Regions from separate parts of the Homo sapiens genome. Here region 1 is linked to region 2. The links come from fine-mapping of genetic effects on gene expression. A gene starts in region 2. The other region holds a variant in brackets. All regions are shown on one strand. Distances are between the middles of the regions.

The links. PIP is the estimated chance that this variant, and not a neighbour inherited with it, causes the effect.
Region 1: its variant is fine-mapped to the expression of UROS in whole blood (TOPMed, PIP above 0.99).

What each region holds. Positions count from the first base shown.
Region 1 is chr10:125,793,206-125,807,128 of GRCh38, forward strand. UROS (uroporphyrinogen III synthase) reads right to left here. Exons shown (of 10, transcript NM_000375.3): 7 at 4,860-4,940; 8 at 2,898-2,983; 9 at 1,675-1,773. Among named protein-coding and RNA genes, the nearest start is that of MIR4484, 20 kb to the right of the region's middle. The variant G/A (reference allele first, on the strand shown) is at 3,520.
Region 2 is chr10:125,817,437-125,833,264 of GRCh38, forward strand. It overlaps UROS (uroporphyrinogen III synthase), which reads right to left and starts at 5,822. Exons shown (of 10, transcript NM_000375.3): 1 at 5,593-5,822. BCCIP (BRCA2 and CDKN1A interacting protein) reads left to right here and starts at 6,110. Exons shown (of 7, transcript NM_078468.3): 1 at 6,110-6,286; 2 at 9,155-9,229; 3 at 10,122-10,202; 4 at 13,126-13,215; 5 at 13,984-14,171. The coding sequence starts at 6,122. MIR4484 (microRNA 4484) reads left to right here and starts at 2,304; the gene lies at 2,304-2,386. RefSeq lists silencers at 5,469-5,898, 6,655-6,874 and enhancers at 5,750-6,435, 5,979-6,178.

The sequences.
Region 1 (13,923 bases), 25 kb before region 2:
TGCTTTTAAATATGCTCACTTTGAAAGAAGATAGAGTATAAATCTTTTGTTCTTCCTCTAGGCAAACACTAAGAAGCTTGGGGAAAACTGTGTTAGGCTTATACCACCAGGCATCTCACAGCATTGTGTGACTTGGGGGTGGGTGGGTGGGGTGGAGGTGGGGACTCCTCCTACAGGCCCAGGGGAGAGGCAGCAGGGCACAGAGGGACAAGAACCAGAGCAGGACCAGCACCGTGACCCATCCTGACCTGCAATATGACGTAAGCGCTGGTCATATGGACCAGTTGCCATGCTAAGCACTTTATGGGTCCTATCTCTTTAATTTTTCTTTTTCTTTCTTTTTTTCTTTTATGGGGCAGGTACGGAGTTTCACTCTTGTCACCCAGGCTGGAGTGCCGTGGCGCGATCTCGGCTCACTGCAACCTCAGTCTCCAGGGTTCAAGCGATTCTCCTGTCTCAGCCTCCCATGTAGCTGGGATTATAGGCGCATGCCACCATGCCCAGCTAATTTTTATATTTTTAGTAAAGACGGGGTTTTCATCATATTGGACAGGCTGGTCTGGAACACCTGACCTCAGGTGATCCGCCTGAGGCCTCCCAAAGTGCTGGGATTCCAGGTGGGAGCCACAGCGCCCGGCCTCTCTCTAATCTTTCTAACCACAAGATTCAGATATTGTTTTTCTTCCTCGGTGACCTGTGTGAGTCCTGGGCCTTCTAGGAACTCAAAACATGACTTTGGCAAGTTGTTTCACCTCTCTAGCCCTCAGTGTCCTCACCTGTAATGAGGAACACTGACCTCTTTTTCTGGATACCCACCACTGGACTGGTGTGAGAATTGTATCAGTTACTGCCCAGAAGTGCATCAACTGCTCAGCAGCTCCTGAGACCATGGCAAGGCATCACCATGGCTGACAATGTGGAATCAGTCTTCCCAGGTTCAACTGCAGCTCTTCCTTCTCAGCAGTGTGACCTACAGACAGGCCATATGATGTCTCTGAGCCCCGTGCTCCATCTTTAAAACTGGGAGAGCGGTGCATACTCCCCACATGAGATGCACCTGTGAGAAGGCAGGTGAAGCCTTTTGCTCTTCCTGACTGCAGTGAGTGGCAGTGTCTGTCCTTGGGCTCTGGGTCACATCCTGCACCCTCTCCTCAGTCCCTCTGGAGCCAGTTCAAGGGTGTTTCTATTACAGACACAAGAGTTGTGGTTATTTGTAGACTCATAATAAATACAGTCCCTAGTAAGTGAGAATGTAAACCCTTTAAAAGATATGAAAAAGGTGACTGCTTTTAGAATAGACAATAATGGCAAACATAAGATGGGGGAAAGGAAGGAAAGGATGTTAACACCTGTACCAAGCCCTGAGCTAATTCAGGACTTTACTCAAATTCCCTCATGTAATCCTGAGACTCATCCTAAGCAGGGAAGACCATACACATGTCTATGAAAGCCACAGAGAGACAATTATCCCCATGCTGCAAGTGAGGAAACGGGCTGGGAGAAGGTGAGCAATCTGTGCAACAGCCCAGCAGGAGGTAGAGCTGCCCTTCCAATTCTAAGGCACCTGCTAGGCCAGGGGTGTCTCACTTGACATTGAAGCCCTAGGATAATTCATAAAGATTAAAAAAAAAAAAAAGAATCTGAAAAAGACCAAAAGCTCATTGAATAACTTACCTTAATTTGATCGATATTGTCACCAGATAACTCCTGAATGTGCTTGAGACTGTATGTGAGGCCAGAGGGACTAAAAAATGTGATGCTGGCTGGAACCCCCTGTGGGGAACAGAAAACAAGATCAGTCCTTGCCATGAGACTGAGGAGAGACAACATTCCTCCGGCTTCATCCGCATCAAGACCTCAAGCCACAGGCCACCAAGGCGGTTTTAGCACAGGAGTGGTTCCCGGCTGATGCTGGCATCCTCTGCTCCAGTGAGGCAGGATTCTGGTAGGGAACTGTTGGAAAGAGCAGGCTGCCATCAGAAAGCTGGTGCTGCCCCAGGTCTGTGTCTGCCTGGCCAGAGGACATGGGCATCCCGGAGCTCATGTGCCCAGCAGCCTAGACAATGCCTCTAGCTCCTGTGGTCATACGGCACTGATCACATGAGGCAGTGGTGTGAGGCAGTGCTGGCTCCCTGTCAATGCTCCCTCCCTCTGGAAGCAGAGCAAGCAGACAAGCCTGCCTGGCCTTTTTGCATTTGGTTTGTCCTATCAGGCCCTCCCAATACCAGGCAAGACATTCAGAAGCTTGCCCTGGGAGAGGAAAGGGAGGTGTTTTACTGCATATAAATGCTGAAGACATCAAGGAACTCAAGCAAGAGCTATCCATTCTCCTGCCTGAGTCCTCCAACAGTCCCCACGGACTCCCAAATTCAATCCAGACTCCTTGGTGGCCACTGTCAGCTCTTCCCACTATGGGCTCAGCCTCCCTCTCCAGTGTCTGCCCCTCCAGCTCCACCAGCATCCCCGTATGATGAATAGCAATGATAACATCAAGGCCACTATTTACCTCAGGGTTGTATGTATCTTCGATGCTGTACAAAAAGCTTTGCGTAAATTATCTCCTTTAACCCCTATAAAAACTTACCACTTCCTCAAAGTCACCACATTAATCTCTCCAAAGAGGGAGATTTCATAGACCACCTACTACAAGCACCTCTTACCGAAATCACTGATTTCAAACCAGCTTGCAATAGACATTTCATGAAACAACCACAAAATTGTTTCCATTCCTAATTCTAGAATCCCAGACCAACTATGTGACAGGAAAAGGCATGCAGGTGACAGCTGGGGACAGTGAAACCACATATAGAACCAACATCTATCAGCTCGTGCCCTTCACCCTCTGCTTCCCCACCTGGGCACCCACCCTGCCAGAACCGCCCCCAAACGCCACGTACCTGCTGGGAATAGTAGCTGTTCAGGTTCCCTTGGATTCCTGGGTGTGCAACTGTCTGATACACAGTTATGCTTTCCATGGCAATCCCTGGGCACAATCAAAAGCAGGAAAGACTTTACCGCACTGGGCACACAATGGGGCCTCCACCACTTCACAGCACAGTTGGTGAAACCTCCCAATACAGCACCACCCTCCTGGAACGAGCTGCTTGGAAGCTGAGAGGCCAGACTCAGCAGAGAGGCCTTGAACAGTCCTCTGCAGCCTGCTAAACGCTGTGGAGTGGTCCGGTGGAAGAGGAGGCTGAGACGGCAGAAAAAGAACAAAGGCCCAGAAACCAAAGCCTTCATTTGTACCCAGAATGCCTTTTGTTCCCAGGCTTATGTAGGTTTGTCCACACAAGGCCGTCCCTAGTCACTCCATGGATCCCACACAGACTGGTTGCATGACACCAGCAAGTGTAGGAAGGGCAGCTCTTGGGAGAGGCCTGGAGTCCAGATCCCCGGCTGCACTCCAGCTGTGCCTCCACATGGCCACGCGTCCCCTCTCTGGGCCTCAGTGTGTCCACTTGTACAAGAACTGATTAAGCCGTGGACTTTCCCACATTCCTCCCTGTGCCATTCAGC[G/A]ACTCTGAATATTCCCAGGGGTTTTCAGGGCTGGTGATGAGGCGCTAGGCACTGAAGGGACTCACGCAATTTCAGTCAGATATTGACTTATGAGGGGCAGCCAGATGGTAGGTGAAAAGTAGTGAAAACTCAGGCTTCTGAAAATAAAATGGGAAACTCTCTCAGAAGAAATGATAACTTCAGCATAAAACAGCAACCTATTGCCATTTCATATCCCTGAAAACTAAAGAAATAAACTGAAGTATCAAACCTCTGATTTATATATTATTTCTTTAAGGGTAACTGAGACCAAGCTTTCTCTTATTTTATCCTGGTATTTTCTTGTTCCCGAAAAGCTAATGATTTTGCTGATCTTATTACCTAATGTCCTCTGCCTTTATTCCTGGTAGCTTTAGAAGACAGATGATATGGGTAGAAGGGATACGATCTAGCTCCATTTTAATACGGGGGGAAAGTTACAAGGTCTAAGGTCATCCTGGGTCACACTGCTCATGTGGACTATTAGAGCTTCAAAACCCTGGGAGAGACAGTAACAGTCATAGTTCCATGGAGAGCTTGCCTTTGGAGAACAAGGTGTCATGCTACATGATCTCTGAACACCTCTATGAGGCAGGTACCATGGTTATGTACAGATAACCATATTTCACAGATAAGGATACTGATGCACAGAGAGATTACATCACTTACCTTCATTCACATAGCTAATAAACAGCAAGAGGGAGAATTCAAATCTGTTTTTATCTCATCCGAAAGCTGGTACTCCAAACCACTGATAGACTTTGCTCCCAGACTAACTATGTGACAGCAAAAGGTGCGCAGGTGACAGCTAAGACATCTGCATCGAGGACGGCAGCATGCTTCAGAGGCAAGAACTGGTTTCTAGGTGCTGACAGTCTTGGGAGCCACGGCAGGTGGAGCTGGAGGGGCAGGTGGAGCTTGTGTGGCTCGGCTGGAGGGTGCTGCATGCTATTATAAGATCGGCTACATTTGTAGACTTTCTTCTACATGTGGAACCAATTCTATGGTTTGTCACCTCAGTTATCTGCCCAGGGGCCACCTCCACATCTCGATCTCCTGTCCTCTTGGTGAAGGACTGGAGACACACTGTGTGCTCCTAGCTTGAGCTAACAAGCTGGGAAGAGTGGATCCAAAGAAAGGAAAGTGCAGACTGCACGTCCACTCTTCCCATGAGCATGGTCTCTGTGTCTCCTGGCCTGGCTTATCCAACCCAGCCCTGCTCTCCCTTGTGTGCTCTCTGCAGGGCCACCCACTTCTATCACTGCAAAGGCTCCTGGTGGATCCCAAAGTGGTAAGGGATGCAGTCAAAGCATTCTACTCGCCTTTGTCCTTGAGCGCTTTTGGCAGGATTTCTCTTTTGAGGTTTCCACAGGGAAATAGAAGAGGCAGTGCTGAGGACTCCCCTGTGAATAAATAACCAGGCTTTGTGAAAACTCAGGGCCAGTGCCTGTGCACAGGGGAATGGGGAGGGGCAGCTTTGGGAAGGGGGAAGCAGCCCTGGGCTCCAGGCCTGGCTCTGCTTCTAGGACTCAGTTTCAGCATCTGTAAACAGGAAGAGCACCTGCTACCTTGCCGAACTTGAAGGGTTGTTATATGAAGATCATAAGAGGTAATGTGTGTGGAGGTGCTCAGAAAATGAACATCCACACAAACAAGTTAGCCACATTCTTTTAACTCCTTCTGATCCTGAAGTGACTCCCTAGCCTGCAGTCACTATTTAGAAGGCAGACTTTGCACCTTAACTAAGTCAGGAAGGTGAAGATCAGGCCTGGTGCTGACTGGCACTGGGGCAAACATTTTCTACCTTTAAAGAGGCTCCAGATGAGCCAGGGCTCATGCTCAGGAGGCAGCCGGTAACCGGCAGCCAGGAGTGGCTCTGCAGCCACCCCCAACAAAGACAAGCTCACTGCCCACTCCTCTTCTAGCCACACCAACAGCCACTAGGCCAAGTGCCAAAAGGCGAATGCACAGGCCTTAGAGAGAGAAGCCTGCTAAGAACGGCCTGCCTCTCCTTTCACCACAACCTCTGCTCCCAGCATCTCCACTCTGGGAAGACTTAAGGGCATTTTCAGCCCTTAACTCTTTGCAGAATAGTGAGGACAGCATAGGATTTGAATGCCAATTTGCAACAATACTGTCCAAAAAAGCTGATAAGTTGTCAAATGCCAGAATCTTCCCCAAATGTGAAAACACAGCATTTTAGTAGAACCAGCCATTACCCCCCACATCCATCCGTAAGACATAAGAAATTTTAATGGGCGTTATTCATACACATTGTATATTTTCTCACATCCTTATGATCTCTCTGATCACATCTTCTCTGGTGACTACAACGAGAGGAAGGAGCAAAACAACCCCTTTCCATCCAGTACCACCTCTAGCAAGCAGCAGCCAAACAACAGGAATAACTGCAGGCCACTTAATTTCAAGTGTATAAAGGCTACATACTGGTGAATGTTTTCTTTATTTAAACTGCTCTGTAAATATCTGTACCAACATAAAATAAAATAATGAATTGGGAGATTGTTAAATTCGTTAATAGATGCCTGCTGATTTCTCTCTTCCAGTGCGAGGAAATGTTTTCATGCTCTGCATCCCTAGAGACATATTTTCAAAGCCATGTTCAGAGGCAATTTTCTTCCCCGTTTCTGTGTGTCTATGTGTGTGTTGGGGAATGCAGGGTGGAAGATGTTAGGGGCCAAAGCTCTTCCTGGGGATCCAGTAAGAGAACTACAGTCCAGTTTTTCAGCAAGCCCAGCCCCACAGGTGTGCGAGGGGCCTTGGAAAGAGTCAGGAATCTTCCCTTGGCAGCACCTCTTGTGAGGGTCCAGTGGAGTCCTGAGCTGCTCATTCTTATCTCTGACTCACAAGGCTGGGCCGAAGGGGTACGCGGCTCCCTGAGGGCAGCTGCTTGTCTCTATCTCTCCACCACCTGTGCCTTGCAGAGAGCTTGGCTCTGCAGGCACACAGGGCCCACAAATGTCCAACCAGCTCAGCTGACTTCACTGAAAAGGCACCACCCTGTCAGCAGAAAGGAGAAAATTGAAAATGTCCTGGCTGAGTCCTCCTTTGCTGGTGAGGAGAGATCTACAACTACATGTCCTGAAAACTAGCCCACTTCAAAAAGCCAAAGACAAAGGAGTTATTCCCTTTTGGAATATGCTTAATGCCTGGGGATTTATCTTCAGCCCCAACAGGCCAATGGGATGGTTAAGGCTGACACAGAGATAGTGAACTGTGGAGCTCAAAGGCTCTGCTCTCCGTTCGTTTAACAGGAAGAAGGCCTGGAATTCTGGGCTGTCCGGGCTGATGATGAGTAATAACACTGAAAATCCTAACACAGTATTATTATTACGCAGCTCAGGAGGGGGCTTGATAAAGTCACTGCAGGCAATTAAGAAAATGATGATACAAGCAGGAGGCAGACAAATGCCTAGGCAGATAGGGAAGGGTCCCCGGTGAGACCTCACCTTCAAGCCCAGAACAGCCTGAAGTCTGAAAGACCAGATTGCTGGTCCCAGATGAAACCAGCGACCCAGGGGCAGAACGTCTGCCCGTTTGTCTGCCCTTTCCCAATTGATTCTTTCCGAATAATGCCTTTTAACCAATCAAATGTTGCCTTTTCCGATACTACCTATGGTTTACCTGGGCATCCTCGTGTGCGTGCTGGGGGAACGGGGCGGAGTCACTAGGATTCGCACCTTACGCAGGGGAGGAGCCTGGCCTCATCAGCTCATGTGTGGTACCCCTGGTATTCAATAATGAGGGAGAAACCTGCTTGGAGAATCCCTCTCTTTGTTGAGAGCTTTTCTTTCTTTCTTTCTTTTTTTTTTTTTTGTGACGGAGTCTCACTCTTTCACCCAGGCTGGAGTGCAGTGGTGCAATCTCAGCTCACTACAACCTCTGCCTCCTGGGCTCATGCAATTCTCCTGCCTCAGCCTCCTGAGTAGCTGGGATTACAGACGCGGCCACCAAGCCCAGGTAATTTTTGTATTTTTAGTAGAGATGGGGTTTCACCATGTTGGCCAGAACTCCTGACCTGGTCTCAAACTCCTGACTTCAGGTGATCCACCTGCCTCGGCCTCCCAAAGTGCTGGGATTACAGGAGTGAGCCACTGCGCCCAGCTGAGGGCTTTCCTTTCACTTAATAAGTTCTGCCCTTCTCACCCTTCAATGTGTCCACATGCCTAATTTTTCCTGGTCATGAGACAAGAACCCAGATTTAGCTGAATTAAGGAGCAAAAAGTCCTGCATCAATGACACTGACTTTTTAAAATGTCATCTTACTGAAGGACGTGCACACATCTGTAGAACAGTAACAACTTCCAAGTTAACAATGACTTCCCCCTCTCGGGCACTGCCATGAGAATCAGTTCGAGCAGACAGTGGGCGCCTGAGTGCTGATAATAAGGATGAGGAGGCTGATCGGAGGAATGGAAGAAAAGCCCAGTAAGTGTGCCAGGCTGCAGAGATTTTCCCAATCCAGGAGGACATTTCAAATAAACTGCAGTGCAATCTTTCTGCCCACACAGTTTCTCTCTCTTTTCAAAAGTTATACTGTATTCTACCTTTTACCATTTAGTGTGTAATTACTTTCCCATTAGAGGAGATATCTGGGAAAGAAGGAGAATCTATCAGAACAATGAGTTATCAGATTAAATGGATTAATAGCTTTAAGCACTTACAATAGTGCCTGTCACAAAGTAGTTAAGTGTTAACTAAAATAAATAGGCATAGCTATGAATTGGCCTGTTTACTACAAGCATTAGAGGTAGATTTTTAGCTTTTAAAATCAGGCATCAAAGTTTACTGAGAAAGAAAAATCATTAATGCCTTGGTAAAGCCAAGGTGAAGGTCCTTATTAGCAGTCAACATGGATTTTTATTTGGATATTCTAATTGCAAATGGAAGATTTATTAGGACCCATAGATATGCTGGTAATAAATTAGAGGAAATGGCAGAAGTTTGCAAAGAATGCAGACCAGTATTCTCCCAGATAAGGTCAGAATATGTTAATATCTATCCAACCAAGCCTTGAGTCAGTTAACTGAAACACCAATGTGATCACTCAGAAGTGACATTGATCTCTTCTGTCTTGTGTTTGCAAAGCAGGGACACCAGCCTGATGGTTCTGGGTCTTCTAATGAACAACGACTCAGAGGTTCACTTCTGTCTCCTTACAAACAAACTGTGGGTACAGCTCAATGTCTTCACTGAAAACAGGCAGGAGCCACCTATTCTATTAAAGAGCTAATTGTCAGCCACCCATAGAAATAATTACTATTCTTTGTAGAACTTAATCCCACAAGCAATGTCAAGATCTACCATTTACATTTATTTCTACATTTTTAAAAGAAGGGCTTTGATACCATTTATGCGGTGATGATGACTCTCTAGAAACAACATTAGAAACAAAAAGCCTGGAGCCAGACAAGACCCATCTGCATCCTGTACCAGGAACCCCTGGAGCGAACCCTCCACACTGATGTGTGGCTCCATGACCTGAGGAGCGATCCCATGGGGCTGGGGCCACATGGCACGGGGCCCAACCAGTGCTCTCTGATCCGGAAAGCTGGAACAACTGTCTGTGGCTTCCCTGCAGCTATTTCAACACCTGGCTGAATAAAAGAGAGTCACTGCCTGTCTAGGCTGCTGTTAAAGAAAATGACCCCCAGCAATCCAGTCTGGAACATTCCACAGAAAGCAACACGTTGGCCATCAGGCCTTTTCCTTTCAGTTGCTTAGCCTCAGATGCTCTTTGAATTGGCCTCCAGAGGGCTTCTCCACACTGGTGCATGGAGAGGCCTCTTCCGAGAACACCATGTGGCACAAGTGGCCAGAGAAGCACAGGGCCAACCGTCTTTACTAGCAGCAAATGGTGAACACTTTCTACCACAGATTACAGTCTCCTGAACTGTATGTTTTTAGCTTGAAAATGTCTCACAGTGCTGGCTCATGAAACATTCTAGAGAAAGCCTAGCAGTATCTCTTTAGGTACAGCCCAGGTAGGGAGGGTAGGTCTGAGATGGCACGAACTCCCAGCGGTACAGACTGAGGCATCTGTGCGAGGCCCTGTGCGCTCCTGGAGATGAGTTGAGGTCAGGAGGTCCCAGCAGCCCCTTTCCCTTGGGGCTCAGGCTGGCCTCACCCTCAGGGGCTTTCCCCACCGCCTTGCCACCAAGGATGCGGCTAAACCCCAGATATTACTCCAATGATTCATCAGCATAAGGGCACGTCCAAACCCACTTTCTTCACTTCAAAAGATTCCTTTGACTTCTTCACCTGAGGGAAGAGAAATGAGCATATTTTGGACTTGGACTAAGTATCTTTTAGAAGCACACAGAGCAAGGGAGACAGGAAGAGCTTTGGAGTCAGCCAGTCCTAGGCTTGAGCCCCAGCCTACCACTATTAGCTCTGTTCCTTATGGACAAGTTTTCCCTCTCTGAGCTCAGTTTCTTCATGAGCAAAAGCAGGTCTAGTAATCGTTCCCATGTCACAGCTCAGTACCACAATATGTCAGACAATTAAAGGCATGCACAAAATGCCAATGTATGTCAGACTCATAACGGGCCCTCAAACTCCCTGATAGCATTTCTGTTATGCCCCCAGAGCCTCCAGGACCCCGTGGAAGCTGCCTGCCAGCAAGCCCTGGAGCACACTGAGCTGTGGGAAGACGGCTCCTTCAAGGCAAGACCTGCCACAGCACCCCAGGCCCTGCTCTTAGACTGCGATGGCTCTGTAGGTTTTAAAGAATGCTCTTTTTACTTAAGGGATAAATTTCAGAGACACTCCTAAAAAGTCCCAGGAACAAGAGAACTGGGTCCTAATCCAGTGACTGCCTTTTGGGCCCAATCCTGGCTGTACCTAGTGATGCCCGCTAAGAGGGAGCAGGCAGTGTTGTGTTCCCGTCTAGGCCTGGGGAGGACCAATCCAGCCTGAGTCTGACCCGCAGGGGCTGATGTAAGGCCCCGTGCCTCAGGGCTCCGGTCAACTCTCAGAGGCTACTCAGTGCTCCCCAGCTTGCCACCCACTGCCCCTGCCATGCTGTACTCTCCAGGAAAACCCTCTCCTTCCACGTCTCTGCTCAGTGGCTCCCTCTGAGTGGGAGGGCTTGGCCATGGCTACTGCCTGAGGGAGGGCCTGCCCTTCTCTGTGGAGAGGAGGCCATGCCTTTTGTACAGACTTTCCTGAAGACCTCTGCCTTCTTTTGGACACCCTGACATGACACTGTGATACAAGAGGAAATATTTCGTTTTCCTCCCTGTTCCAGGCACAGAGCTTCTGAAACTCTTGGAACTTCCCATTAGAGGTGAGAGGAGCATCTTTTGTTATTCATGATAAACCCCTTTTAACCATACTGGAGTTTATGCTAATGAGGTGACTGGTGGTGGCCCCTAGAAAGCTTCAGGATGGGGGCTGAAGGCCACACAGAGGATCACAACCATGTGATCAAAGGGTTGGAGATGGAGCTAGTCACCAGGGGTCAATGATTTAATCAATGGTGCCTACATAATGGAACCTCCATAAAACCCCTCAACTATGAGTTTATAGAGCTTCTGGGTTGGTGAACACATCCATGTGCCAGGAGGGTGGCGCACCCCAACTCCATGGGGGAAGAAGCTCCTGTGTACTCAGGACCCTTCCAGACCTCTTCATCTGGCTGTTTATCTGTGTCCTTGTTATCTCCTTTATAAAAATCAGTACACATAAGTGTTTCCCTGAGTTCTGTGAGCCATTCTAGCAAATTACTGAACCTGAGTAGGGAGTCGTGAGAACTCCTGACTTGTAGCCAACTTGGACAGAGGTCCCTCAGCATCCAATACTTGTATCTAAAGTGGGGGACAGTTTGCTAAGACTGAGCCCTTAAAGCTGTGGGGTCTGGGTTAATTCTGGGTAATGTCAAAATTAAGTTGTAGGACACCCAGCTGTTATCTGGAGCATTGGAGAATTGGTCATTGATATGAGGAAAAACCCCACCTATTTGGTATCCTGAGTGTTTTACAGGTAGAAACAGGTATCTTAATAGCAGGCCCACCATACAAAAACTGTTCATACCTCTTCTGGTCACTTAATCCACCCTGCCTTATCACGGTTACTGATGTATATGTTCCCCACCCTACCCCACCTCCAGCCCCAGCTAGGCTGGGAACTTCCAGAAGACAGGAATGGAGTTAAACTCCTCTTCAGTCCCAACGCCCTGCAAAGGGCCTGGCACACAGGTGCTCCTGGGTAAACATCTGCCGAACCATATTGAACTGACTTGTTCTCCTGTGATGTGGGAAGCAATATGGGGGGTGGGGCAAGAGAGGCGTCAGTCAATGCATTAATACCTGAAAGCCATGTCCGAGCCGATGAACGCACATCCACTGAACTAAGGAGTGCACAGGCTCAGGATTGCCAAGTGGCCGAAACACTCTGGGACTACAGCTTATTCATCTGAGTGGCCAGAAAAGGCCCGTGTAGTTCCTCTAAACCGGAGGCTCCTTAAGCCTCTGCCCACCAGATTCAAACACAGAGTCAAGCACACTTACGTCTTCATCCCTGCAGGAGCCCCAGTCACTGTAAATCAGAGTGGATGGAGGTGCTTGGCCAGCATCTCCTTGAGAGCAGGTCGGCATGGAGCAGATGCCAGTCAGGCCTCTGAATGTGACAGGCCATGGGATGAGCAGTGGCCTTGCTGTGCTGAGTGTGAATTCCAGCCTGCCACTTCATAGCTTGTGACCTTGGACAAGATCTGGGCCTTGGACCCCCAAGAGTCTCTATAGCAGCACAGTCAGAAAGAACTTTTGGTGATGATGGGAATGTTCTGTGTGGTCCAATTTGGTGCCACTGGCCACAGTGACAAGTGAGCTTGTGAAATGTGCCCAGTGTGACTGAAGAACTAAATTTTCAATTGTATTTAATTTCAATTAATTTACATTTACATTTAAATAGCCGTATGTGGCTAGTGGCTACTGTACTGGCCAGCACAGCTTGCAGTGGACACGATTCTGACTTCATGGGGTGATGGTGAAGATTAAATGACATCATACAGGCCACGTGTCTATGTACCCGAGACACGCTGGGCACTCAGTAAATGCTAGTCTTCAACGTTAACACCGAGCATGTAGTGACTCAGGAAAGGTACAACGAAGTTATTTTTAAAAGAAATTAGAAAAGAGAAAAAAGGAGAATTGGAGAACTTGGAAAGGATCCACTGAGCCCAGCAGTATCTCTGCTGTTCCCTGACTGCTCACTGCCGCCCCCAACCCAGACGACTCTGTCAGGGGCCTAATTAAGCTCCAGGGATCCTCAGACCACAGTGTAGAAAAAGACGCAGGACTTTCTCTAGAACAAGCTCCCAGTAACACAAAGAAAAATATAAGCTAGAGAACCTTCAGGCAACAGCAATGACTTACGGCAGGAAGACTTGTAAGTAATGCCTTATAAGACGTTAGTGTACAAGTTTGCACGTCAAGAAAGGCCAACATCACCTTTAGGAGTATTTTTTTTAAATAACATAAATACTTTGTTTTACCAGAAACAAAACCATCTATCACTGTTTCAGAAGCCATAAAGAGACCTATTTAAGGTATACTCTCTCCCTATACCACTCATCCTGATCTCACCACCCAAGGGCCAAGGCATATACCCCTCTCCTGGGACCACCTTAGAGGAAACTCTCAGCTGTCAGCAGTTCATCTGACCCTGGCCTCCCAGCTCAGCAGACACTCAAGCAATTTTAGAAAGGGGTCAGAAAACTCTAGCCTGGGGTCAAAGCCAAGCCCATTGTTTGTTTATTTCCTATGGCTGCTCTCATGCTTCTGTTGCAGAGATTAGTAGTTCTGACAGACCATTTGCCTGCAAAGCCCAAAATATCCTTAACAGATGAAGTTTGCCAGCTCATGATCTCTAGGAAAGCCTGGATTTCCTCCTCTTCAGCAATCTAAGATAAGATAGTTCTACTTCATGCTCTCATGGGGGTGTATGATCTTACACCTACAGCAGAGGAGTCAAATGACAAGGGTGTAAGAGCTTGCGGTTGTACTGGACATTCAGGGAACAGAGAGGAAGGGAGATGCACCTTAGAGGTGGGGCTGCCCTACAAGTAGACGGTCAGCCTTCCCATCCCTCTTGCTCCAAGAATTTTTGCCTATGTATCTTCTGAAGCCTACAATTCCATAATTAGTTTAAGACTAAGTCCCCATTTAAATGCTAACACCCCTAGAACAAGTGCCACTTTAAATCCAAGTCCACAGGCAGCCCAATCATGAGTCAGTTCTTTACCTGGGAGCAAGCTGGGAGAGGGAATTCAGAGACAGAAGTAGCTCCTGAGAAGGGAAAGGACAGTCCTCAGTAAGGGGAGAGTACCCACTCACACCTCCTGCCTCTGCTCTCTTTGGAATC
Region 2 (15,828 bases):
GATAATATAAGGAAGGAAGTATGGTGTCACAGAATAAGCACAGGACTAAGGGCCAACGGACCTGAGCTCTGGTCTCAGCTTTATGACTTAACCATGGTGTGATCTTGTTTTTTCCCATGTTAAATGGGAATAACCTCTGCCCTACCAAGCCTTAGGGTTGCTGAGTGACTCAAAGAAGATAAAAACAGCGAACAGATCTATTGAACTTACTGCCTCCCAGGCACTATTCTAAGAGCTTCACATGCATTAAGTCCACCTACGAGGCTTAGGAAGAAGCTGAGGTGTACAGAGGATGACACTCATCCAAAGTCTCAGAATTGCTACGTGGCAGAGCTGGGATTCACACCCAACCAGTCTGGCTCCAAAGTCTGTGCTTTTAACCCCCTACGCTATATTATGCCTCACATACACTTTGAATACGAAAATGTTTGGGAAAAATAGAGGTATAAAAATATAAAGTATCACTGTAGTACAAAGTGCTTAGTTTAGTTATGCAAACACCCCAAAGAAAAATCAATCTACCCATTGTAAACAGAGAAAATATTTCTCCTGGGTTCTAATCTGTGGTTCTCTTAGGTAATAAAACCGATGCTGGCATGAAGTTTAGGCTTCTGGATAATAAAGAGCTCCCTGAGATGTGTTGCAAATAAAAATCCAACTACTACCCTTATCCTTTATCTGACGTCACTGAAAGCATTTGTCTTCTTTTTTAATCCTGTATACAATCATTCCCAAACACTGAAAGCATTTCTAATATAAAATTAGGCCAGGACAGTGGTTCATGCCTGGTAATCTCAGCACTTTGGCAGGCTGAGGCAGGAGGATTGCTTGAGAGCAGGAGTCCAAGATCAGCCTGGACAACATAGCGAGACCCCATTTCTACAAAAATTTTAAAAGTTGTTAACAAGGAGCCGGGCATAGTGGCGCATCCCTGTAGTCCTAACTACGCAGGAGGCTGAGGTGGGAGAATCACTTGAGCCCAGGAGTTCAAGGTTGCTGTGGGCTATAATCGTGCCACTGCACTCCAGCCTGGGTGACAGAGAAGGATCTTGTCTAAATAATAATAATAATAATAATAATATAAAATTAAAAGGTTCTGTTGTTGATGATTCTTTGCTGTGCTAGAGTCACATATTATCAGGCTGATTGGGAAAGAAATCAATTGAGAAGCGTGCACAGATAGGTTAACATGTCGCCACCTTGGGCTTTAGGAAGAGGCTTGGTGGAGTAGAGGGTGTTTGCACAGGAGGGCCAGTGTCTGGGTTCTGGTCTAGGCTGCTCTTGCCTCAGTCTCAGTTTCAGATTCCTGTACATTGGAAAGGGGCTGTGAGCCTCTCCATTGTTGGCTTTTTTGATGGACTTTCTTTCCTGTAGTAGATGCTCATTATTTGCTCACCTTGTGGGAAAACAACAATTTCAATTTTACCCAGCATCTTTGAAACAGAAAGAATGATTAATTTTCCTTAAAGTAAAATGGAGCACTTGTCCTTCAAGTTGCCTGCTTAGGTCTCTCCCAAGCATACTCTACTTTCTTTCCTGTTCTAAAGTTTTTTGTTGTTGTTTTTTGAGATGCAGTCCTGCTCTGTCGCCCAGGCTGGAGTGCAGTGGTGCAATCTCAACTCACTGCAACCTCCGCCTCCCGGGTTCAAGCGATTCTCCTGCCTCAGCCTCCTGAGTAGCTGGGACTACAGGCATGCGCCACCATGCCCAGCTAATTTTTGTATTTTAGTAGAGATGGGGTTTCAGCATGTTGGCCAGGATGGTCTCCATCTCTTAACCTCGTGATCCGGCTGCCTTGGCTTCCCAAAGTGTTGAGATTACAGGTGTGAGCCACTGCACCCGGCCTAAAGTTTTTTAAAATAAACTTCCACTCCTGCTCTGAAGCTTGCCTCGGTCACTTTTTCTGCCTTATGCCCCCAGTTGAATTTTCTTCTGAGGAGACAAGATTGAGGTTGCTGCAGGTGTCTACTGATTTGCCACTGGTAACATATTTGGTGCCACGTGACTCAGATGGTAAGGGATCTCTATGCCTCGCTTTCTTCTGCTGGAGGCATCTGATCCCTGTGCAGTTTTTCTTCTCCTCCCTCTCTCCTGCTTACTAAACAACCCCCAGAACAATTCCTCTTGGCCATACGTGACTCTGCTCTCTGCCAGTTGATTTCTTAGCTCACTCTGGTGGGTGGCTCATGGGAGTGGGAAGGACCCTAGGGTCTGCATCAAGCAGATCAGAGGCACTATATGGCCCTCCTTGATAGGAGGCTTGAGACTGGTGAGGCTAGGGCCTAAAAACCGTGCAGTGTCTGGGGTTTCCTCTGCCTTTTTTTCCAATGAAAATAACGAAACCTGTTATTTCCCATTGAGGGGGAAAAAGGCGGGAGAAGCCCCAGCAGAAATGAAGCTGCTCCTGAAGCTTCCAACATGAAACTCACCTCGGCACTGGTAAAAAGAGGGCTCAACCTGTCTCTAGATTTACAGTCTAATGCTTGCTCTGCCATTTTACCCTCATACTTATGTTCATCAATCATTGATGAAAAAGAAAAGAAAAAAAAAATGACTGGAATAAGGGCACCTTACTGGTAAGAAAGAACCAAACCTCAAACCCGTACCTTCTATGTCATGGTGTTCTGGGTATCAGCAATAACAACAGTCACCCTTTTACTGAGCATTTACTCATGTTAATTACTGGGTGTATTAGAGTTCTTCAGAGAAACAGAACCAATGGCATATATTTACATCTAGAAAGGGATTTGTTATAAGGTATTAGCTCATGCAGTTATGGAGGCTGAGAAGTCCCATGATCTGCTGTCTGCAAGCTGGAGACTTGTTAGCAGGAAGGCTGGTGTTGTAGCCTGAAGGCCTGAGAGCCAAGGGTGTAGGTTCCAGCCTGAGTGTGAAGGCCTCAGCACCAGGAGCACCAAGGGCAGAAGATATCCCAGATCAAGCATGCAGGAGGAGACAGGACACATTCTTCCTTCTTTGGCTTTTTGTTCTATTTAGGCCCTCAACAGACTGGATGCTGCCCACCTACTTTGGGGAGGGCAATCCACTTTACTCAGTCTATCCATTCAAATGCTCATCTTTTCTGAAAACAACTTCACAGACACACCAAGAAATAATGTTTAACCAGATATCTGGGCATCCGTGATCCAGTCAAGATGACATGTAAAAGTAACTATCACACTGGGCTAAGCATTTTACATGCAAGACTGCAATCCTCACTTAAACCTGCAAGGTAGGTGGTGTTAGCCTTATTTGCAGGAGGTGAAACCAAGTCCCTGGGAGGTTTGAGTAACTTGTCCCAGGTCACACAGCACAGTAAGTGGGAGAGATGGAATTTGGATCCTGGTCTGAAGCCCATGCTCAGTCTCCTAACCACTTGCTACCATCCCTCTGCCTCATTAAGATAAATTCTGAGCTAAAGATGAACACTGAACGAGTGGTAAGCAATCTACTACCTGCTGAGTTCAGTTCCCTAGGGTCAGTACTGTATTTACTTTCACATTCACTATTCTAATTCACACTTTGACCATGAGCTCAACACTGGGAACTAATCTGAGGGCATAAAGTAAGGCTTTTTCCCCTACTTGTCTTACAAAAGTGATCCTGTTTACTGTGAAAGATTTGCAAACTACAAAAAAGTATAGTTCCTCAAAAAAATAAACATAGAATTACCATATGATCTAGCAATTCCCCTGCTACATATATACCCCAAAGAATTGAAAGCAGGGACTCGAACAGATATTTGATACTCATGTTCATAGCAACATTATTTACAACAGCTAAAATGTAGAAGTAACCAAAATGTTTACCGACAGATAAGTAGATAAACAAAATGTGGTCTATACATGCAATGGAGTATTATTCAGCCTTAACAAGGAAGGAAATCCTAATGCATGCTACAGCATGGGATAAACTTTGAAGACATCATGCTGAATGAAATAGTCACAAAAGGAAGAATATTGTGTTACTCCACTTACATGAGGTTTCTAGAATAGTCAAATTAATAAAGATGGAAAGTAGAAAGGTCATGGAGGGAAAATAAGGGAGTTGTTTAACTACAGTTTCAATTTTGCTAGATGAAAAGAGTTCTGCCAATGGATAGTGGTGGTGATGGTTGCACAATGTGAATGCACTTCATGCCACTGAACTGTATCTTTAAAAATAGTTAAGATGGTAAAATGTATGTTATGTATCTTTTACCACCATAAAAAAAGTATAAAGAAACAGGAAAAAAAATTGGCTATGGTATCTCAGTGCAACTCTGTTGATATGTTCACATGGTCTTTCTGAGTCTTTTTTCTAATCTTAGCCTTTTGATGGGTCTTTTTTGACAGCTTCCTCTCTTCTCCATTACAGGAACATGTTTTTGCAGTTGTGCGACCCAAAGAGGCCATTTCAAGCTGCCCCATCAGATGTGGAGCGCTGATGTGTAAGTATTACTTTAATATCCATGACATGGCTGGGTAGACAAGAGACTCCCAGGAAAGACCGAAATCACAGAACACGATTATGGGCAATCTGGGCTCCTGGGGACCTTTAGGGCACGCCATCTCGTACTGATGAAGGATCACTGATTTATCAGATGTTACCCTGCTTAAACAGAAGCAGCCTATTAGCGCAGCTCACACCATTCCTAGAATCAAACATATCCAACCCACCCCCCTCATTTTACAGAGAAAAATCAATTGAGAACCGCAGATCTTATTCCTAGAAAGCTGATGAACCCTGTTTCTCTCGCAATGGGAAGACCTGGCTGCCCCAGGCTGCATCCCCACCTGCCACAGGGGCTGGCGCTCGCTCTGCAGTTGGCCGCAGTCCCCTCCACTCTTCTCTCCAAATAGGCTCGGGTCTTTAACCTAGACTACCCCACTGGCCCCGAAGCATTTTTTTTTTTTTTTAGATAGGGTCTACCTCTGTCGCCCAGGCTGGAGTGTGGAGTGCGGTGGCGCGATCTCGGCTCACTGCAACCTCCGTCTCCTGGGGGCATGCGATTCTCCTGCCTTAGCCTCCTGAGTAGCTGGGACTACAGGCGCGCACCACCACACCTGGCTAGTTTTTGTATTTTTAGTAGAGATGGGATTTCGCCATGTTGGGCAGGCTGGTCTCGAACTCCTGACCTCAAGTGATCCACCCATCTCGGCCTCCCAAAGTGCTGGGATTACAGGTGTCCGCCACCACGCCCGGCTAATTTTTGTACTTTTAGCAGAGATGAGGTTTTGCCATGTTGGCCAGGCTGGTCTCGAACTCCTGACCTCTGGTGATCCACCCGCTTTGACCTCCCTAAGTGCTGGGATTACAGGCGCGAGACACCGGGCCCGGCCCCCCGCCGAAGCATTTTTAACTGCGGTGCCGGCTTTAAAAAAACTTTTAGGTCAAGAAATGCGCTCCAGAAGCTCGGCGAGGGTAGGCTGGGCAGGCGCCTTCCGTCACCGGCGCAGCGGTAGCGGCAGCGGACATCCCCGCCTGGGCAGGCCCAGGTCCGCGGAAGCCTCGGGGCCCTGGCCCCACTGTGTCACACACCGCCCGGGGCCGGGCCCCTGCACGCCCGCGGGCTTCGGCGTCCGTACCGGTACAGCGGGCGGCGACACCTACCTCGCGGGACCGTGCCCAGCACCCGGCCTGGCACACAGCGGGCACCCGGTCGGGGGGCGGTGTCGCGCAGTCCCAGCGAAAAGGCTGCAGGAGCAATGACAACAGGGGCGGAAGCCCCCTCCCCACGCAGCCCGAGGGGCCGCGGCGGCCACCCGCGCCGGGCCCCAGGACCCCGCACCTCAGACTGGGGTCGCGTGGGTGGCTGCGCGCAGCTAGGCGCTCGCGCATGCGCACCGCCATCCAGGCCACGGAATGAGGCCAGAGGTTAGATGGGTTGAACCACTACGGGAAGGGGAGGGGAAGCTTTGGGAGGAGTGATGGAGGGTGGAAAGCGGAAGAAAAAAGCAAGATGGGACCGCAAGCTGGACGTGACTGTAAGGGGTCATGGCTGCGGAATCCAGCAGGGGCATTGGGGTTGACGTGCACTCAGCGCCGAGCTTCTTCGTAGTTCCTCACCCCCTTGGCTACTATGGGCTGGTCCGGAAGGTCAGGCAAGGGGAAGCTGCGCAGGCGCAGTGTGAGCGGCAACATGGCGTCCAGGTCTAAGCGGCGTGCCGTGGAAAGTGGGGTTCCGCAGCCGCCGGATCCCCCAGTCCAGCGCGACGAGGAAGAGGAAAAAGAAGTCGAAAATGAGGATGAAGACGATGATGACAGTGACAAGGAAAAGGATGAAGAGGACGAGGTCATTGACGAGGTGAGAAGGACACGCTCCCCTAGTTGGTTTATACCTGAGAAAAACTTTTTGGCAAGCCCAGGCTGTGTAAAAATAGTGTAGGGTCTTCCCTGACCCTGAGGGTCTGTGAGGAGAAACTGGAGATAAGTTCTTTCTCAGGTTTCTCCTCGGTCTTTAACACACTGCAGCCATAGTAGTTATTTTTTAAAGGTCTAGTCCGGTCCAGTTAATCTCCCAACCCGCGTCCTCCCCGAAAAAGCCCGCCACAACAGGTGTGTTCTTCTCGTCCTCTTTAGTTCTCAGGCTGAAGCCTCAGATCCTGAATCGGCCACCCCGGGCTCGCAGAGGGGGCCCTCTCCCCTCGGGGCAGCAGCTGTCCTCCTCTTCACTCTGCGGGCGGCACTCACTTGGGCCCTCAGTTTCTTGAAGGCTCTTGCCGCGTTCTACCGTAGAAGCCTTTTCAAATGCTCTTCTTTATCCTGCAGTTTTCCCTTCCTTCTTCAGATCTCAGCTAGGCTGTATTTTCTGGCTCCTGGGGCAGCTGACCAAGTCGTGGGTAAATCTTTGGTTTCATAGTCTCATAGAACTGTGTTCCTTTCTTCAGACTAGGTCCTACCGTAGTGCCTGGCAATATAGGTACTTATTATTTGTTTAGTAAACAATTAGGACTGAATGATCCTTCAGCCTACTGAATGTTTAAATAGATACCTCAGCCTTAACTTGTCCAAAGCAGAATTTGTATAATAATTCATGCCCCTCTCTTAATCGTCACCATTTCTATAAATGGCCCCTAAAGTCACCAGCTGCTCTAACCCAAAACCTGGGGCTTAACTTTAATTCCTCCCTTTCCTCATCCTATATCCAGCCCATCAGTAAATCCTGTTATCCAGACATTTCTCAGCACTAATTCTGAGACCATCGTAGTCCACACCTCTATCATCTCTTGCCTGGACTACTATTTAATGTAACAGCTTTTAACCGGCGTTCTTTTCTCCATTTTTGTTCCCCTACAATCAGTCTATACTCCACTTACAGTCAGAGAGATCTTATAGGTCTGATCTCAGGCCTCTGCTTAGATTGCTGCATTGGCTTTCTAGTTCATTTACAAGAAAATCAAGAGTCTTCACAATTGAGGGACGGAAAGGCAGCCTAGATGGCTGGATCAGAATAAGGAAGAGAGAGTGATAGGAAATAAAATCAGAGAGGTAATCATGAGTCATGATGAGCATGGAGGGGAGCATGGAGAGAAGCATGGATGCAGGATTAGAGGTGACACCATGGTGTGGGTATGTGATCAATCTTCCTTCCCTTACAAATTTTACTTTGGCTCTATGCCTTGAATGCCATCTCACCATTTTTCACTTAGAACTTTGACTGGCTCTTTTATTACTTTTGGGTTATAGAAATCAATGCTGCTTGTGTTAACATGGGAAATCTATCACACCACCACAGTCTTAATTCTAAATCACCTGGGAATGAGGGACAGGGCTCTTTTCTACAAACGTGACTGTTCCTGCTGAAGCCATGTGGAGATGAGCCCATACCCAGGAAAAGGGTGCTGGACAGATAATCCATTTGCCGCCCATTTCCCTGGTGGTGCCATAATAGTCTGGGACAGAGGTCCGAGATGTCTGTCTAGACAAAGAAAAAAACACTAGATGAGCATTATTTACAGAATGTATTTATATCTAAGGAATAAGTTTAAGTCCTGAATAATGACAGTTTGTTATTTGGTTTAGTTTGATCCTGTTTGGAACACTCCCACCCGACCCCTTGTGTTTTGCTGCTCACATAATCTGGCTAAGTTAGCATTTGAAGTCTGCAAAGCTGGACTTAAAGAGTTCAAATTGGAGCTGGAATTGCTCTAAGCAATTCCAGGGCCTTGCAATTTTACAATTAAGGAAGACTTAAATATATACATAGTCAGGGTGGCAAGGTAAAAGGAGGTCTGATTTCCTCTGCGATGTTCTTCAGCTAAGACCTAAATTCTGAAACCGTTAAAACCTGAAGTGCCTTTAAATATATTATTTCATCAGAGCCCCAGGTTCATTGTGTCACTTATCAAGGTCTGATTTAGGGTCCTCAAGGACTAATCTTGTTAGTGTTTAAAAGCAACTAGGTTTTGTTTTTGGCATTTTAGTTCCATCTTCTAGATTCTGTTGTCTTGCAGATAGAGATCAGGGAGCCCAGCTACACATTCATTCTTCTAGTCCCTTGTACTCATTGTATTTCCTTCTGCCTTAGGGCCTTAGTTTGTGCTGTTCCCTGTACCAGGAACTCTCTTTGCTGTTTCTCGGTTTCTTGCTCAAATGTCACTTCAAGGAAGGCTTTCCTGACTGACTTCTTATTTTTTAAGTTGTTACAACATTGTGTACCTTTGTTTTATAGCACTTACATTTATTTCTATGAATATTTCCTTAATGCCTATATTCCTTCCTAAATCGTAAGCTGCACGAGAGCAGGATCATTTGTGTCTGCCTTACTAACCTTTTCATCTTGAGTGCCTGGCACAGTGCTTGGTACCTGGATTGATACTTAATAAATATTTGCTAAGCAAATGTAGTGTAACCTCAAATCCATGGGCTAAGTCAAGCTCTAGGCAATTCCAGGGACTTTTGAAGTGATTTTGATTTTTGCCCACCCTTGTAATCAGGAAAATAATTTATCCTTTGTGGCTGCCGTGTCTGGTTTATTTGAACTGGACTTTCTCAACATTTAAACTAGGTTACTCTGAGTGTTTTGTTTTCTCAGGCTTTTGTGTCACCTGAAGAAATAGTGTGAAGGTGCTTTGTATTCTTCACAGATGGCAATCTTGGCAATGTTTGCCTGTTTTAAAGTCTAGATGTTTGTAGTTTTTCTGGTAACAACTATTTTGTGTGTTATTTACAGGAAGTGAATATTGAATTTGAAGCTTATTCCCTATCAGATAATGATTATGACGGAATTAAGAAATTACTGCAGCAGGTATTGTCTTTTATTTATTATGCATAAATTTCCTCTTCTAAGAAAAATCAGGGGCCGGGTGCAGTGGTTCATGCCTATAATCTCAGCATTTTGGAAGGCCGAGGTGAGAGGATTGCTTGAGCCCAGGAGTTTGAGACCAGCCTGGGCAACATAATGAGAACCTGTCTCTACAAAAAAATTAAAAATTAGCCAACTGTGGTAGCACACACCGTTAGTCCTAACTCCTCAGGAGGCTGAGGCTGGAGGATTACTTGAGTCTAAGAGCTCAAGGCTGCAGCTATGAATGTGCCATTGAGCTCCAGTCTGGGCAACAGAGTGAGCCTCTGTCTCTAAAAAAAAAGAAAATTCAGGTCATTCAATACAGGCTCTCCCAAGTTCATCTTTTTAGAATTTCCATTTCTATCCTCTCCACCTTGCCTGGAAGGAAGAATTATTTCCTTTCATCTGCTAATTAGAGTTATTTTGTTTTTTTTTTTAATTCACAATTCTTATGTAACAGTCATATAACTGTGCTGTTTGGTGCTATAAAATTGATGCTTGCTGCTTCTCCTTATTCTTTTACTCATATAATATGACTTTGGTTCTTTAGCCTTTATAGCTCTACCGTCTTTTTCACCAAATTCTTTGGCCTTAAGTTTATCCTCTCTCGTTTCTCCCTTTTTTCTCCCCCTCCCCCATTACTTCTATATTACTACTGACTTCTTCTTTTCTGAAATTTCCTAATCTTTAGCTTCTTTGACTCTCCTGGGCTTTTCTTTCCCTCTTGGGGTTGCTTTTCTAGATCATCATCTTAAGTCACAGAAATTTCATTGTTTGTATTTGAATATAGGATTTGAAGTTATTAGAAATCATGCTTTGATCTTAATTTAAAATAATTTTTTCCTCCTTTTAGCTTTTTCTAAAGGCTCCTGTGAACACTGCAGAACTAACAGATCTCTTAATTCAACAGAACCATATTGGGAGTGTGATTAAGGTAAGTAGGATAATTGTGTTTATTCTGATTAAATGAGTTCTTTATTCTGTTCATGCTGGGCCTCACCATGCTTGTAATCCCAGCACTTTGGGAAGCAAAGGTGGGAGGATTGCTTGAGGCCAGGAGTTCAAGACCATCCTGGGCAATATAGCAATACTCTGTCTCTACAAAAAATAACAAAAAATTAGCCGGGCATAGTAGCACATGCCTGTAGTCTTTTTACCCAGGTGGCTGAGGTAGGAGGATCTCTTGAGCCAAGAAGTTGAAGGCCATGGTGAGCTTTGTGCCGCTGCACTCTAGCCGGGCAACACAGCAAGACCCTATATCTGAAAAAAAAAAAAAAAAAAAAAAAAAGTTCTTTATTCTGTTTAGCTCAAATTGGAAGCAGTATTACTGGAGGAATGGAGACTGATCAGAAGTCATTGCAGAAATCCAAGCTTATTAAATGCAGTAGTCCAGGTGGGGGCAATGGAGAGGGAGAGAAGTGGGCTCATTTAGAAAATATTTGGGAGATGAAATATGATGAGGTTTAGTCCCTGATTGGGTCTGAAAGTGAGAGGAAAAGGAGTCAAGGATGACTTCCAGGTTTCTAGCTTGAGCAAACAGGATAACAAACATGGAGGAAGGTCAAATTAGGAGGGGGAATGTGAATTTGGATTTGTACATTTTGAGTTTGAGTTACCTGTGAGATACCGGGTAGCAGGTGGAGCCCTGGAGACTTGGGAGTTGGTCGTAAATGTTACTGAGGTCGTAGAAGTGATTGAGATTGCGCAGGGAGGGAAGGGACAGACACCTTAGTAATACCAAGAATACTTCGATGAGTAATATAAGTGGCAGAGCCAGCAAAGGAGATTAAAAGGGATGACAGGAGAAGTAGAAGAAACAATAGTGCAGTGATGTCATACACAGCAAGAAAGATAACATTTGAAGGAGGAGGGGATGGTCATCTTTATCAGATAGATGTTGTAGAGAGCTCAACAAAATAAGGACTGGTTTAGACCCTGGGTCTGCTGCTTATCATCTGGTGGTTCTTTGGGTTATCTGTTGTTTGTATAACAAACCACCCCATAGCTTAGTGTCGTAAAATAGCAGTAGTCATTTATTTGGCTAATGGATCTACAGTTTGGACAGAGCTCAGTGGGCACAACTCATCTGTGCTCCTGCTCCATCATGTTAGCTGGGGTGGCTTGACTAGGGGCTGGAGGATTCCCTTTCAAGATGGCTCACTCACATGACTGGCAAGTTAGCCCTAGCTGTCTGTCGGGAGCTTAGCTGGGACTCTGGACCAGGGGCCTTAGTTCTTCTCCATGTGGGCCTCGTCACACATTGGTTTGCTTCCAAGAGCAAGCTGCCCAAAAGAAGCAGGCAGAAGTGATATAGTGCCATTTCCACCATTTGCTTAGTCTTTACAGATAGAAATTTCTATCTAGGGGGAGGGCACATTGATCCCACCACTCCATGAGAAAAGTACCTAGGTCACTTTGTCAGAAGAGCATGTCCAAGGAGAGATCCATTGGGGCCATCTGTGAAAGATACAGTCTGCCACAGTACCTTAATCTGTTTCCATTTCTGTCTCTGAAAATGAGGATGGTACTAGCACCGATCTTGTAGAGTGCATGGGTAAACAAAATGAATTGCTGACTGCTTAAAACAGTGTCTGGCAGCTGACATGTGCTACATATGTGTAGCTGTCACTGTTGATGTCTTTTTCCTGTTCCTAGCACCTGTTCCCTAGCCTGTTGTGAAAAACACAACAAACAAAAGCTCCATTCAGTCTAATGTTCCACTCTTAAGTACATCACCTTCAGAGCCAAAATTCTTGAAAAGTAATCTTAAGTCATGGTTTCTACTTCCTGTCCTCCTATTCATTCTTCAGACACTCTTATCTGACTTTTACACCACTAAAATTCGGACACTGAGTGATAGGGTCACCAACATACTTGTTACTAAATACAGTGTACACTTTTCAAGGCTTCTGACAATATTAGTAACTTTATGGCACTCAATGTAAAGAAAATGAGAAATTAAACCTATGGGGCATTCCTTTTATTAGGGCAATGGGAAAAAGCAGACCACCTGCCCTTTCATCAAATAAATGTGATCTCTAGCTGATTCGTGTCTTAGAAGACCTAATGGATATGGAGGAGAAGCAGTTATTTTTATCCTTGAAAGAGGTTATTATCTAATGGCAGGATTCACTCTTTAAATGGATAATCACATCAATAGCTCTGCAGTTGTAACTGTGGCTTCTTGGGATTCTCCAGAGACACTTGAGGTGTCCTGAGGATAGAGACTTCTTGTTCTTAGTAAAGGGACTACCCATAGTGTTCGGTGGAGCCAGTCCCTAGGATCATAGAACAAAGGGCAGGGGGTTCTCTTTTTTCCCCTTCTCTCTTGCTAATGTGATAGGTGTAAGTGGCCCTCAAGCATTGCCTAGCTTCACTAATGGTCAAGACTGACAAGTGTTCTGGAAACTCATGAGTTTTAGATGAAACAATGCTGTGGGCCAGCAGAGAAGCAAGGCTTGGCTCCAGCCTAATTGTGTAGAAAACAAATGAAAATGCTTTATTTCATGAGGTTTATCTCTTCTGGATTTGTATTATATTGAGAATCTGATAAAAGAAAATGACTTAATCTGGTACAAAGAAATTTCAATCTGTTCAGAATCTGAAAAGAGGAACAGAGTCGAGGTAAAGCGAAATGAACAAGGTCACACAGTATTTAAGATACAATGCTTTCCAAGATGATGGTGGTAAAACTGTGACAGTATTTAAAATACAATGCTTTCTAAGATGGCGGTGGTAAAACAAAGTTTTGCTTTTGAAAAGTGAAAAGATAAATGAGGCCTACATCCCAAGACTTGGTTTTATACTCTTGGTATTATACTAAATATAACATTTAAATATTTTTTCTTTTAAAATAGCAAACGGATGTTTCAGAAGACAGCAATGATGATATGGATGAAGATGAGGTTTTTGGTTTCATAAGCCTTTTAAATTTAACTGAAAGAAAGGTTGGTTTCACTGGATGGCATCTGAATGGTTATTTCTTAGGCCAAAACCACTTTTATTTAATGCATGGTGAAAATGTCTTTTATGTTAAACAGTGATATTAACTATAGGGATAAGTGCTCTTGTGAAATCTTATTGTAATCCTTTTTCAATATGAAGGTGGTGGTGTTGGGTCTGTACCCAGTTAAAGTTGTTTACTCCCTGTGGTTTAGGGAATCATCTGGCTTTGCAGTCCTGATGTTGGTACTGATGCAGGAGCTGTTTGTGCTGTCTCTCTGCAGCTGTTATCTTTGCTACTTGTGTAGTGGGGATATTCTCAGGCTTTGCTGCCTCAATGTTGAGGGCATTTACTGACATTTTATTTTGTTTCGATTCATCTCTTTTTATTGATTCTCTGATGAGTTGTAATAAAAAGTAAACCAGCTGCTTACCCACCTCAGAATAAGATGCAGGCTACACTTAGTCTTTAATTTTGAAATAAACTGTCCAGTTACTTCCATCTATCTTTATGAGATGGACTAGAGTTGCCATTCCAGTGTGTCTGAATGTTAATTATGACTCTCTTACCACTCATCATGGGATGGTAAATAACCAGTGTATTTACTTTTGAGAAATGCTTAAGCAGTCAACACTGAAGACATACAAGACGTTAAGGCTATGGCAGGAAACTGCCCTTAGCTGTAAGATGAAAAGTGATAGCTTTTACTCTCAGGTTTTGTCCTCTATGTGATGGCTTGTAATAGGAAACAAGCTTTCTCTTTGCTTTCTAGGGTACCCAGTGTGTTGAACAAATTCAAGAGTTGGTTCTACGCTTCTGTGAGAAGAACTGTGAAAAGAGCATGGTTGAACAGCTGGACAAGTTTTTAAATGACACCACCAAGCCTGTGGGCCTTCTCCTAAGTGAAAGATTCATTAATGTCCCTCCACAGATCGCTCTGCCCATGTACCAGCAGCTTCAGTAAGAGATTCTGGGAAAATATCTTTGAACAGTAATTTTTTTTTCAAATAGATTCCTAAATGTCATTTAAGTAGAATATGTAGATATAGAAAGAGTTCTGTCCTTGGTTTAAGTGGGTTTAGTGTGAGGGGAGTGGAAGAAACATCCTGTGAAGTACATACATTATTAACAACTGGCTTTTTGAAGAGTTTGTGACAATAATCATGAAATTTTAACTTAAGATTTAAGTGATATATAAGTAGATAATTTCATATAGACTTTGCATCCCCATTTGATTGAAGTTTTTCACCTTCACAGATAGCTTTCTGCAACATGAATAAAATAATGAACAATTACAACAATAACAAAACTGGTAAAGTTCCCAAATTCTATTGGTATGTTTCATAACAAATGAAACCATAGTCCTGATACTGTGGCTAGCTTTTCAGGGTTTTTGTTATTCTATTTTTTAATCCAGAAGTTTTAAGTTTACAAAAATATTTCAAATGTAGCTGTGAAATCTAGCAAACTGAGTGTACTAAGAATTGTATTGTCTGTGCTTTGCAACAGAGGACAAAATATAGGCAGATTCTCTTATTTATTTCTATCTAATTTAAATTTTTTTTTTTTTTTGGTAGAGACAGGGTCTTGCTACATTGCCCAGGCTGGTCTTGAACTCCTAGGCTAAAGTGATCTTCCTGCCTCGGCCTCCCAGTGTTGGGATTACAGGTGTCAGTCACAGCACTTGACCTAGACAGGTTCTTTATAGAATATTCTTTCTCAGAGGTCATAGCCCTTGCGTTGTGGTTTTCCTTTAAATAGCTGTAGGAATGCAACTCTACTCTGGAAACCTTTACGTTTGCTGTTTTTTCCTAGGGATTCGATGCTTCTTATCTCCTGCTCCCTGCTCTCTCAGCTGTAGCTCAGATTGTGCTTCTGGTGCCTTAAGTGGTTTTTGTTTTTTTTTGGTTTTCTTTTTTTCTGATCAGCTGGAGCTCACATTTATTTGGTTTTATAGGAGGGTGATTTGCTTTCTCCTAGTCCTGTTAAAGCTGAAGTGAGCCAAGCGCAGTGGTGCACGCCTGTAGTCGCAGCTACTCAGGAGGCTGAGGCAGGGGGAATGCTTGAGGCCAGGAGTTCCAGGCTGCAATATACTATGATTGTGCCTGTGAATAGCCACTGCACGCCAGCCTGGGCAAAATTACAAGACCCTATCTTTTTTTTTTTCTTTTTTTTTTTTTGAAAAGGCCAGGTGTGGTGGCTGACACTTGTAATTCCAACACTTTGGGAGGCCGAAGCTGGCAGATCACTTGAGGCTAGGAGTTTGAGACCAGCCTGGCCAACATGGCGAAACCCCAATTCTACTAAAAATACACCCACAAAAAATTAGCCGGGTATGGTGGTGCAGACCTGTAATCCCAGCTACTCAGGAGGCTTAGGCACGAAAATCGTGTGAACCTGGCAGGCAGAGGTTGCAGTGAGCCGAGATTGTGCCATTGTACTCTACAGCCTGGGCAACAGAGTGAGATTTTGTCTCCAAACGAAAAAAAGAAAAAAAAAAAAAAGGAAAGCTGAAGAGGACGGTTGTTCTGAGTTTCTTCTTTTGTTCAAGGGCATCCAGATGCACAAGGCTATGTTTAATTTTCAGAAAGAAGAAACATTAAGGCTTTGTTGCGAT